2 separate regions of the Homo sapiens genome follow, and region 2 is linked to region 1. The links come from fine-mapping of genetic effects on plasma protein levels. A gene starts in region 1. The other region holds a variant in brackets. All regions are shown on one strand. Distances are between the middles of the regions.

Region 1 (5,387 bases):
CCACATTTGGTTTCTATGATTAGGACGTAAGATAATGGATGCAAAGTTGTTATATAAAAAATGTATTCTACAAATATGAGTGTTATTTCCTGGTGCACACATTAAAAAAATTGCCAAGTAGCCTTATGTCTTTGTTGAGTATACAACTCAAGTAATCTCCTTCAAAGTGAGCAGGGAATCTATGTTAGAAAACCCTGGCAGGAGCAAACCAGAGTTTTTATTTTACTTGGAATCAGAGTTCTGTTTTAGAAAAGTGTGGTGTCGTTTTTTTCTCTTAAATGATATGCAATTCACATGTTAGTTTATTTGTATATGCCTACTTATTAGGCATATACAAGATCGATAATGTTGTGGATCTTATTATTATTGCCCAAGGGGCTAATATTCACTTTTCAAAACTTATTACTCATCTAGTTCAGCAGCTCAAGATTTTGAAGCAAATCTGTTTTACATACATGTCTTAACCTTCAATCCCATTTAAAAAAAATAGTAAATTAGATGGTTAACCTTTTAGATTTGCATCCTCTTTAAAATAAAGCTTTACAGCAAATGCATTTTTCCTACAAATGTCTTCGAAAATGAGATTGAAGAGGATGTATCATCTAAATTTTTCTGTAAAGAGCTTGCCCCCGAAATAATTGGAACATGAACTGAAACCTCTAGATAGGAATTCCTGGACACAGCTGTCCATTATCTTTCGGGACTTTGGTGCACCTCACCCTTTACTGAACACAACTTTGTGTCAAACACTGGGCTAGGAGTGCTAGTTGTGATGTTTGAGGCAACAGTGGAATTTTTCTTAGGACTTAGTAGAACCAGTTCTTTTTTTTAATATGCATAGTCAGATTTTGATGATATTCAGTCTGCTCATATCTATAATAGTGATATTAACGTCTATTTCACTAGGATGGCTCTTGTGAAGATTAAATTAAATACTGTATGAAGAAGTGCCTTATACACAGTTATATAACCAGGATAATATCCAGATGGAATTCTCATTCTCTCTCTCTCTCTCTCTCTCACTCTCACTCACACACACACACACACACACACACACACACACACACATGCAATATCATCTTATAAATATCCTAGAATTGAATATCTCAGTAGCAGAGATAGTAGTTCTGTTTCTCAGAATTGCTTTTGCAAAATGGTGTTTTGGATTATAATTGTGCTATTTAATTTTTCTAATTAAAATTTCTAAATAGAGCCTATTAAATATTGGATGCTTATGATAGAACATTTGAAAATATAGAAAACCAAATGACCTACAAAACCTCTACCTTCCAGTACCATCATTCCGAGCTGATTACTGTTAACATTTTAATGGTTTTTGTCCGCTAGGTCTCCTTGATGAGTTTCACCTGAGGAAAAGGACTCCTTCAGGTGTGTGAACTTGAGCCACCAGGTCCAACCCCATTGGCAGGTGCTGGTACAGACGACTGAAATCAGAGGAAGATCAGAAATCTTCAAAACCCAGAGCAGCAGATGTCTTAACGGTCCCGAAACGTTCTTTGGTTCTTTGCAGTCAACATTCACGGGTTAAGAAGATTGCAATGCCATGACGGGCTGAGGTTGCATTTCTGGACGCTGCTTACTCCCGCTTCCTTCCATCTGTTTCAGGCAAATCATTATGCAGTTCTAATTAGAACAATCTTCTAAACACTCTCTCCAGAGCGACGTTCTTCCAAACACGGTTTAAGCGGCGAGAGACACCTGCCTAGGACCCTACGCGTCTGGAAGTCTCTCCCAGTGAATTGGGTCTCATCTCCTGCCGAGTACGCAAGTTCAATTATCGGCAGATTAGGTTTCTACTCTCCGTGCCCCGCCCCGCGCCATCCTGGGGAGCAGCGGGAATAAATGATCCGCCCCTGGCCAGTGCTCACCCGACTGACCAGAGCGCAGCCCGGTGACCGAAGCGCACGGGGCGATCGCGAGGCGCCCCCTCCCTCTCCCCGCGCCGCCTCCAGCGCGAGTGACGGCGCGCCCTCCGGGCTCCGGAGCGGCGGCGCCGAACAATCCCCGGCAGGGCTCGCCTCGCCGGTGACATCACTCCTGAAGATACTCCTCGCTCCCAGCGCCTGCCTTCCCCAGGCGTCCGTTCGTGTGCCCGTCTCCGCCTTTCCGCCTCGGAAGAGCGCTCATCACTGGCTGGGGACAGAGCCGGGCACCAAGGAGCGACAGGATCCCGAAGAGAGAGAGAGAAGGCAGCGAGGGAAGGAGGACCCCGGCAGGCAGCAGCATGAAATTCAGCCCAGCGCACTACCTGCTGCCTCTCCTGCCTGCGCTGGTCCTCAGCACCAGGTGAGTCCAGGAGCGTGAGTGACCTGAGGCCAGGGGCGCTGCCGGGGCGAGGTTGGTCCTACTGTGGGTCACCAGTGGGGGCCAAGGCACTTCAGCTGTTTGCATCTCCCGCCTAAGCAAGAGGGACGCTGTATGGTTTGGGCTCTGAAATCCTTCTGAGAGAGCAGAGCCCTTTCCTAGTTATCCCAGCCCCCTGGAGAAAGTCTTAGGATTGCTCTCAGTGAGGGATCAAAAGCTTTCTCTTCCGAAGGAGAGAAAAGACATTTTACCCTCCGGTCCTATTAGTAGCCAAAAGGTAACACGCGGTAAAAGAACAAAATAAAGAACGGAAATAGGCAAGGAGGGAATTGCCACCAGGCAGTGTCTTTACATTGGAGTTGTCTTAATAACCATAGAGCTTCTCCCTTCCCCCAAGTGTGCCTGATTTAAGGAAGAGGAAACCAGAGAAAACAGATTAATCCTGGAAGATGCTAAGACTTGTACAAAAGTTCCTGGACTCCTGAAATGGCATGTTTCAACGTCTTGGATAAGCTTAGTGATAGGCGTTTTCTTTTGACTGTCTTGTGAACAGGTCTAATTAAAGAGCACAGAAGGCGATTAAAAGTTAGAAGACACTCTCAGAGTGCTGATGCAGAGACCCTAGTCAGAAACAATTAAGTACTGTACTCCATCACTGGCCATGGATGGGACTTTAAGCCCCATTACAGAGGAGCTATTTTTGGTGGAGATTTAAAATGCAGAGATTGAGAAGAGTTTTGTGACTCCCCACTGTTGATCAAGTCCCAAAGTTGTGATGGGTTTGCTTTTTTCTTCCACAAGCGCAGCACAAAGGTGGACTGTTTAGTTGCCCAGGACTGTCTTTATTCTGCATGCCCTTAGCATCATATTGGCAGCAACCTCTTTCCCTTGGCTACTATAAAATAAAATAACCCACACAGGATGAAGATCCTTTCAAGTCTACGTGAATAGAAACATTATTTGATTGTGCATCTGATGGCAAATAAAGTAGGGATATAGGGTTGTTTCTAATTCTGAAATGGAAAAGGATGAAGAAAACTTACTCTGTCTTACAAATCAAGGCTGTAAAATTCTTGATTCCGTTCCTAATCTACACACCTTCTTTCAGGCCTGTGTAACCAAACTTTCCTTTTAGTGTAGAGACTATTTCATTTACCCTCAATAATTGATAAATTTAGTCTTTCCTTGCAAACAAAGCCCAGGTGACTTTCCCAGATTAAAATGAAATGTAAGTTTGATTCTTCATTTTCTGTAAGGTTTGCTTGTCACTTCAGCTCATAAAGTGCAGATGGTTTTAAAGAAAACCAGTTTGCTTCCCAGTATTATAATTAGTTGCTCTAAATACAGAGCCCATTTTAATATTTGTGGTTAGCTCTCAACAGTTCAATACAAATTATGCATCACAGTTATTCTTTAAATTCTTGCCATTCACTCTTATGTTGTGATTTAGTCTTCTAGAGAAAGGAAATTTTCTAACTTTGGACACTTAAGTAGATGACAGTCAACACATGCATAAATAATAGGAAATATTTAAACAATAGAAATCCAGCCCACAGTGATTTTAGACTGTGAACATCTCTAGAGTTCCAAAAGTACATTTGCTTTTTAAGGATACTATAATTAAATTGAATGAAAAAGCTCTATAGTCTCTAGCGTCCAAAGATTTAATGTTCGATATCTAATACAGGGTCAAAAAGCCATTATCTTTTCCTTTCATGAAAGTGTTGATTTTGATAGGGATAAATTTCTTTAAAAATAGTTAACACACTTATTACAACAAAAACTGGAATAATCATCTATTTCACTTTAGCTTTGAAACTTCTGCAATGCTTGTGGTATGTGAAAACTATGGTTATTAAATTTTACCAGAAGAGAATGCTGGGCTTGAAAAAGATGAAATATTTATAATAAGTAGCATATCTTATTAATGTGATTACTCTGTAGGAATTCATTTTACTGGATACCCAGAATACCCTGTGATATTGAACAAATATGAAAAGCAATGCGGTACTATCAGTGTCATTTTGCAAAGAAGAGAATATGTTTTAAAGATCTCTAACAGAAGGCCATTCTGTGTATAATATTTAACAGTTCTTATAGGCACATGGTTATTGTGCAGATTAGAACCTAAACTGAGCAGCTTTGAAAGGACAGTTGTGTTAGTAGGGATGAGCTTATTGTCCTGCTGGGAAAAGCTGAGTAGCTCAGCCATGGCCACCTGGGACAGTGGGTTTTCTGGCCAAAGACTTCTGTTAACTTAGTTTCTTAGTCAGTAGTCCTGTATGTGAAGCAAATGGTATTTCACATGTTTAGATCACGCTGGATGCATTAGCAGGTGGTGGTAATTGCTAGTTTTTCCTATAGCCTTTGGGTAATCTCACCTGTCTTTTATTGTCAAACTCTTTCCAAAGTGTAGGGAATGCAGAGCGGAGACTCTTAATGCAAATATATATATATATTTGTTTCATTATATCTTTCTCTGAGTGCATTGCCTTAATACTTTGCTATTTTATTTCCAATAGGTCTGAAGTTCAGTTCTATTTTAAAGTAATCTGTTCAGTGAAACAAATGCTGCAGGTGAAAAGGTAGTCTTTTGACTGTGTTGTGAACAGGTCTAATGGTATCTAGCCCACAGCGACTATCCTGTCTTTTAAACAGAAATTTTTGAATAGAAAACAATCCTGCCTTTTAAATAGACATTTTTGAATAGCTTTCTCTTTTTGCTTGTTCCTCCTTCTCACCTTTTCTGAAGCAACTTTAGATGCTGAAGCACAAAATCCCATAATTTAATCACAGTGAACATCAATGGCCCCCAATCAGAGTTAATGTATTTGTCCTGAAAGAAAGCTAAATGTTCAATTTACACAAAAGCCAAGCATTTTTCTCTGTTTTACTGGTAAACCCCATAGAGTTTTAAAAAACGAACAAAGAAAAAGAGCTGTTTAATGTCCTGGCATATGGTCTCTCCTGCTTAGAAAATGCATATAAATTACCAAAAAAAATCAAGTTAATGATATGAATAATGTAACTAATACAGAAACTCATTTAAACTGTACACAAAT
Region 2 (5,387 bases), 560 kb after region 1:
TGGTCTCAGTCTGGACCTGGGGCTCTTCAAAAAGCTGCCTCCACCAGAACAAATATAAATGTTATTTCACTAACCTGACTTCTGTCCTCTAGACTTTTGTATTGGAGTCTCTACTCCTAAGAAGCTACACCTTTTAGTACATAGAGTGCTCAGTATTCAGAGCCTGCAGATTCAATTATAGATAATAATGAAGAAAGTAATACAATGAGTGACATAAACCAGGTGTGAGTAATCGGAATTAGTGGGACATGCATGAACATCAGTTTTCAAGTTCTAGACCAGTACTTCTTAGCTCTGTCTCCAGAATAGTGTCAACCGAAGAGTACTTACAAAATACTGATGCCCACAACCCATTGCAGAAAAATTACCTCAGCACCTCAGTAGGTAAGGTCTAGACATTAGTTGTGTTAATTTTTTGATTCATCCAGATGATTCAAATATGTAGGTCATTTTTCACTAATAATAGATTTCCCATTCATAAGAACCCTCTGGGGAGCTTTTAGAAAGTCAGATTCTGAGCAATTCATCTGGAAATTTTTAATAAATAAAACTAGAGAGACTGTTTTTTGCCTTGTATAAATTTAGCCATAATATTCTGATTTGCATTAAATATTGTGAAATGTATTGCTTCCATTTTAATGTAGCAGTATCAAAATACTGACTACCAGTCTAGAGACTTAAGCTGCAATTTGGGTTGCTTTATTGAGTGTCCAAACTGAATAAGAAGGCAGAACTTAATTTCATTTTTTTAAATCACAAAATAAAATTCTTTATCACATTTCTACCTTTATATTTTGTCTATTTTGGGGTGTGTTTTAGGATCTTAACCTATGCCTTTATATGACTTTCCTTTAATCAGATATTGAATGAATGCTATTTAGTTTTTAACAAGGACAAAAAGTAGGATATAATGTAGTTTTACTTTGTTTTTAATGTCCTTAATAAAATTGATAGTAACTTTATTCCTATTTCTTGTTTTAACTTGATTTTCAGTTGTAATGAATTCAGAAATCCAAAAACCACTGAATCAGCAAATTTTAAAAATAATTAAAGAGAGAGTAAATAGGAACCTGAATCTAGGCAATCACAGAAACAATTGGGAACAAACAATGAAAAGTCTGTTTCAAAGAGAGAGCCCCAGGATTCTGTGATCAAATGAAGATGTAGGTATAAAGATGAAGTGTAACATGAGCCCCAAATGTATGTTTTATTGGCTTAAATAATTACATCATCATTATCAAGAAAGAAAACTAGAGTAGGAGATATTTTTGGTTAACTTTTTTCTATTTACTTCTGAACAGAAGAGATTGGTACTCTGTTAATAATTAGAATGGGTGAAAGGCACAATGAAGCTAATTATTTTTGAAATATATAATTTTAAAAAAGCTTTATTGAGATATAACTTACATACCATAAAAATTCACCCATATAAGTGTATGTTTCAATCATTCATCCCATTTGCTGAGTCCAGGACTGTAATCCAGTTTCAGAACATTTTCATCTCCCTAATATGATCCCACATGCCTTTTTTTTTTTTTTTTTAATACAATGAGTCCTCATCCCCACACTAAGCCTCAGGCAACCAAAAACATGGTTTCTTTTTGTATTTGTTTGTACCTTTTTATTGCTGAAAACCATTTTATTGTGTGGTGTACCACATTTCTTTATCCATTCACCAATTGCTGTCTTTTGGATTATTTTTAATTTGTAGCTATTATGAAAAAATGATGCTATGAACGTTTGCATAAACCACTTTGTATGGCAATGTTTTAATCTCTGTTGAGTAGGCACCAAGATGTAGAATTGCTGGGTTTGATGATAAGTTTATGCTTATATTGAAAAATTGGTACATTCTTTCCCCCTTTGAACAAACATGAGTGGTGCTTCTCTATTCTCCCATCTTCACCATTAAAACCTCATGGTTCTCAGAAAGGTAAAATTCTCAGTAATGAGGGCTCACCTTACCTTAAACTAAGCCTCTTGGAGTTTTTGTATTTCATGCTAGTCCATATTCGGCCTCCAGAAATTTATTAAAGATATTACATAAATATTCCCATCAACTACTGGCTCCAGCAGCTTTCACTTAGGTAGCTTGTCTGTGTTCTCTGTATTCACGGTCTCACCAGTTTTTGGGGTGGTAGTTTTTCTGTAACATTAATTCTTTGATACATCTAAGAAAAATTATTGATTATCAGTCTGTTCAGCTTTTTGCTTGTTGTGAAGGTGGAAGTGGAGACTTCCAAGACCTTTATGTGTCAGAGCAGAACCTGAAGTCCTAATTTGTGTCTTCTGAAACACACAAGCTTTTATTTTCAATAAAGTTCAACTCATCATTTTATTCTTCATGCTTTTGATATATCTAAAGAATTATTCACCTGTTTAAGCACACTGATTTTTTTTCTTATGGTTTCTCATATAACGTGTGTGCTTTTATTTCTTACATTTAGATCAATATTCTTCAATTTTTTGTGTGTGTCTGTGGATGGTGTTAGGTAAGGTTTTGCATTTATTATTTGCATGTTGTTATTCAGTTGTCCTAGTCTTTATAACACATTTTTAAAGAATATCTTTTTTTAATTGAACTTCTTTAGTATCTTTGTCAAAAAATAACTGACACAAACATGAGTTCATTTCTCATCTTTCAATTTTTTAATTGATTTATCCTTATGCTAATACCGTATTTTCTTGTTTTGATTTTTATTTTTAATTTTAGTGGTTACCATAGTAGGTGTATATATTTATGGGATGAGATAAAAACATGAGATGTTTTTATACAGGTATCCTTGGTTACTGTAGCTTTACAATCAGTTTTGAAGTCTACAATTTAAAGTACTGTGACTTTGTTGTTCCTTTTCAAGATTGTATTGGCTATTCTGAGTCCCTTACATTTCTTTGCAAATAATAAGACCAAAACATTGTCTTAATAATACTGTTTTTTTTTCAATCCATAAACATGGAATGTCTCTCCATTTTCTTAAATCTTTTTTTCTTTTCTTTTTTTTTTTTTTTTTCGAGGCGGAGTCTCGCTGTGTCACCAGGCTGGAGTGCCCTGGCGCGATCTCGGCTCACTGCAACCTCTGCCTCCTGGGTTCAAGCGATT[C/G]TCCTGCCTCAGCCTCCTGAGTAGCTGGGACTACAGGTGCCTGCCACCATGACCAGCTAATTTTTGTATTTTTAGTAGAGACGGGCTTTCACCATGCTGGCCAGGATGGTCTCGATCTCTTGACCTTGTGATCCACCCGCCTTAGCCTCCCAAAGTGCTGGGATTACAGGCGTAAGCCACTGTGCCTGGCCTACTTTAATCTTTTAAAATTTCTTTCAGCAATGTTTGATAGTTTTTCAGGGTACAAGTCTTGCATTTCTTTTGTCTTTATTTTTCTTAAGTACTTTTCTCTTTTTCATAGTATTGCAAATGTAGTATTTTAATTGCATTTCCAGATTGTTAATTGCTATATATATAAATGCAAGTAATTTTTGTATATTGATCTATCAGATTGAGGAGTTTTAACTGACTGTGAGCTCTGAGTTAAAACTGTGATGAGATTTGCACACCACCTATAGGTAGTTGCAGTGTTGATTTTAAGCAGTTACGATGCTACATCCAGAATAAAGGAGACACATCTCTTATCTAATTTCGCTTATCAGTCTAGACCGATAAATTCTGCCTCATTTTAGAAATAACACTCTGAGGTTCAACAATGACGAATGGAAAGTGTTTTCTAATGCTTGAGATAGAAGGCTGAAGAAAAAAGTTAGAATTGAAGGTTTGTGTTAATTTATGTTTCAACCAGTTTCCAGCTGTGTAATCATGAATATTTAACCCTTTTAAGACTGTTTTTTCTCCTCTGAAAAAGAGAGATAAATATCTGTTGCTTAATATAACTCATCCAAAGGATCCAGTGAGATAGCCCAGCTTAACAGTTAGCATATGACTAGCACAGCAAGCTCTCAATAATTACTACTTTCCATTCCCTTATGAAAGCTATGCCTCTCACAAAAAACCTCAATAAGTATTTTGAATTATATACTTTAATTAATTTATCAAATGAAAAAACTTAAAATATGAGCAAAGCAACCTTAAATACTGTAATTGTATTTGTAATGTATTTATAGTGAGTAGCCTTATTCAGTGCTACTTTACACAGCAGAACCAGATGCAGCTAGTAGAAACAGCTATAGGAAGAATAATATTTTAGTCAAATATAAAAATGAACTCTTAATGAAAAGTATCTGAAACTAGAATTAGCAGTTGGCGGAAGTACTATAATATATAATAGAATAATGAAAAACAGCCATTCTGGAATATAGTCAGGAATTGAGGCATTTGTGTGGAGGACAGACTGATCATGTTAGCATCTCTTTCAATTTCAGGATTCTATAATTATCAGCAACCTCACCACCCTGACAGCTGATAGGACCCCATGCAGTCTCTCAGTAAATAGATAAGAAAGATTATGCATTTTGATTCCTGTTGGTCATACCTGAGACTGAGTAACAGAAGAGAAAGCATGGGAATTACATAAAACCTAGATGTGTATATTGACTTTGCTGTTTCCTAACATTGTCGCTCTGGGAAGGGACTTTGTATTCAGATCCCTTTATCAATATAAGGTAGATGAAGATTTTTCAAATTTTAGCATACTAAGAATCACCAAGTCAACTGGTAAAACTGCTTATGCTCAAGATCCATTCCCATGTATTATTAATCCGTTGGTCAGGTAAAGAGCCCAGGAATGTGTATTATTGTAATAATCCCACGTAGATTTTCTTCTGTCAATATTTCATGTTAAACACTTTGAGAAATTGCCGGGCGCCGTGGCTCATGCCTGTAATCCCGGCGCTTTGGGAGCCCAAGGTGGGCAGATCACGAGGTCAGGAGATCGAGACCATCCTGGCTAACATGGTGAAACCCCATCTCTACTAAAAATACAAAAAATTAGCTGGGCGTGGTGGCAGGCGCCTGTAATCCCAGCTACTGGAGAGGCTGAGGCAGGACAATCACTTGAACCTGGGAGGCAGAGGTTGCAGTCAGCTGAGATCGTGCCACTGCACTTTGAGAAATTTTGTTGTTCATTTATTGCAGGTTTATTATGATTATTATATAAATATATAGATATTAAATATGTCACATTCAACCATATCATAGATATCCTTATTAGCTCCTTTTAAGAAGCAGCTCTGAAGTTTTAATACTCAAAGTCTCAAAATATTCTGTGGCCTAAGAATCAAACTTGGAATTATAAAACATGCTTATTTTTAGATATCTTTGTTGCTTTGTTCCACTTCCTGCCTATGGTATGCCCTATGTAAACCAGGCAGGGTCACTTAGAAAATGGCCCTCAGATTCCTTGTTCCTTTTTAAAGAAGACTTAAGAAACTTGAAATGGATC

Direction of the effects. Positions count from the first base shown, and alleles are read on the strand shown. Strength reflects both the effect of a copy and how common the allele is.
As copies of C replace G in region 2, the plasma level of the protein whose gene starts at base 2,055 in region 1 goes up (moderate association).

The links. A credible set is the group of variants that fine-mapping cannot tell apart. PIP is the chance, under the fine-mapping model, that this variant and not a neighbour inherited with it causes the effect. The UK Biobank Pharma Proteomics Project read protein levels with antibody pairs (Olink). The fine-mapping took linkage between variants from a reference panel, not from the people measured, so its PIPs are less certain.
Region 2: its variant is the best candidate, but not a certain one, in a credible set for the plasma level of the LUZP2 protein (UK Biobank, PIP 0.69).

What each region holds. Positions count from the first base shown.
Region 1 is chr11:24,494,999-24,500,385 of GRCh38, forward strand. LUZP2 (leucine zipper protein 2) reads left to right here and starts at 2,055. Exons shown (of 12, transcript NM_001009909.4): 1 at 2,055-2,307. The coding sequence starts at 2,246.
Region 2 is chr11:25,052,018-25,057,404 of GRCh38, forward strand. The region is part of intron 10 of LUZP2 (leucine zipper protein 2); the gene reads left to right. Among named protein-coding and RNA genes, the nearest start is that of LINC02699, 400 kb to the right of the region's middle. The variant C/G (reference allele first, on the strand shown) is at 3,101.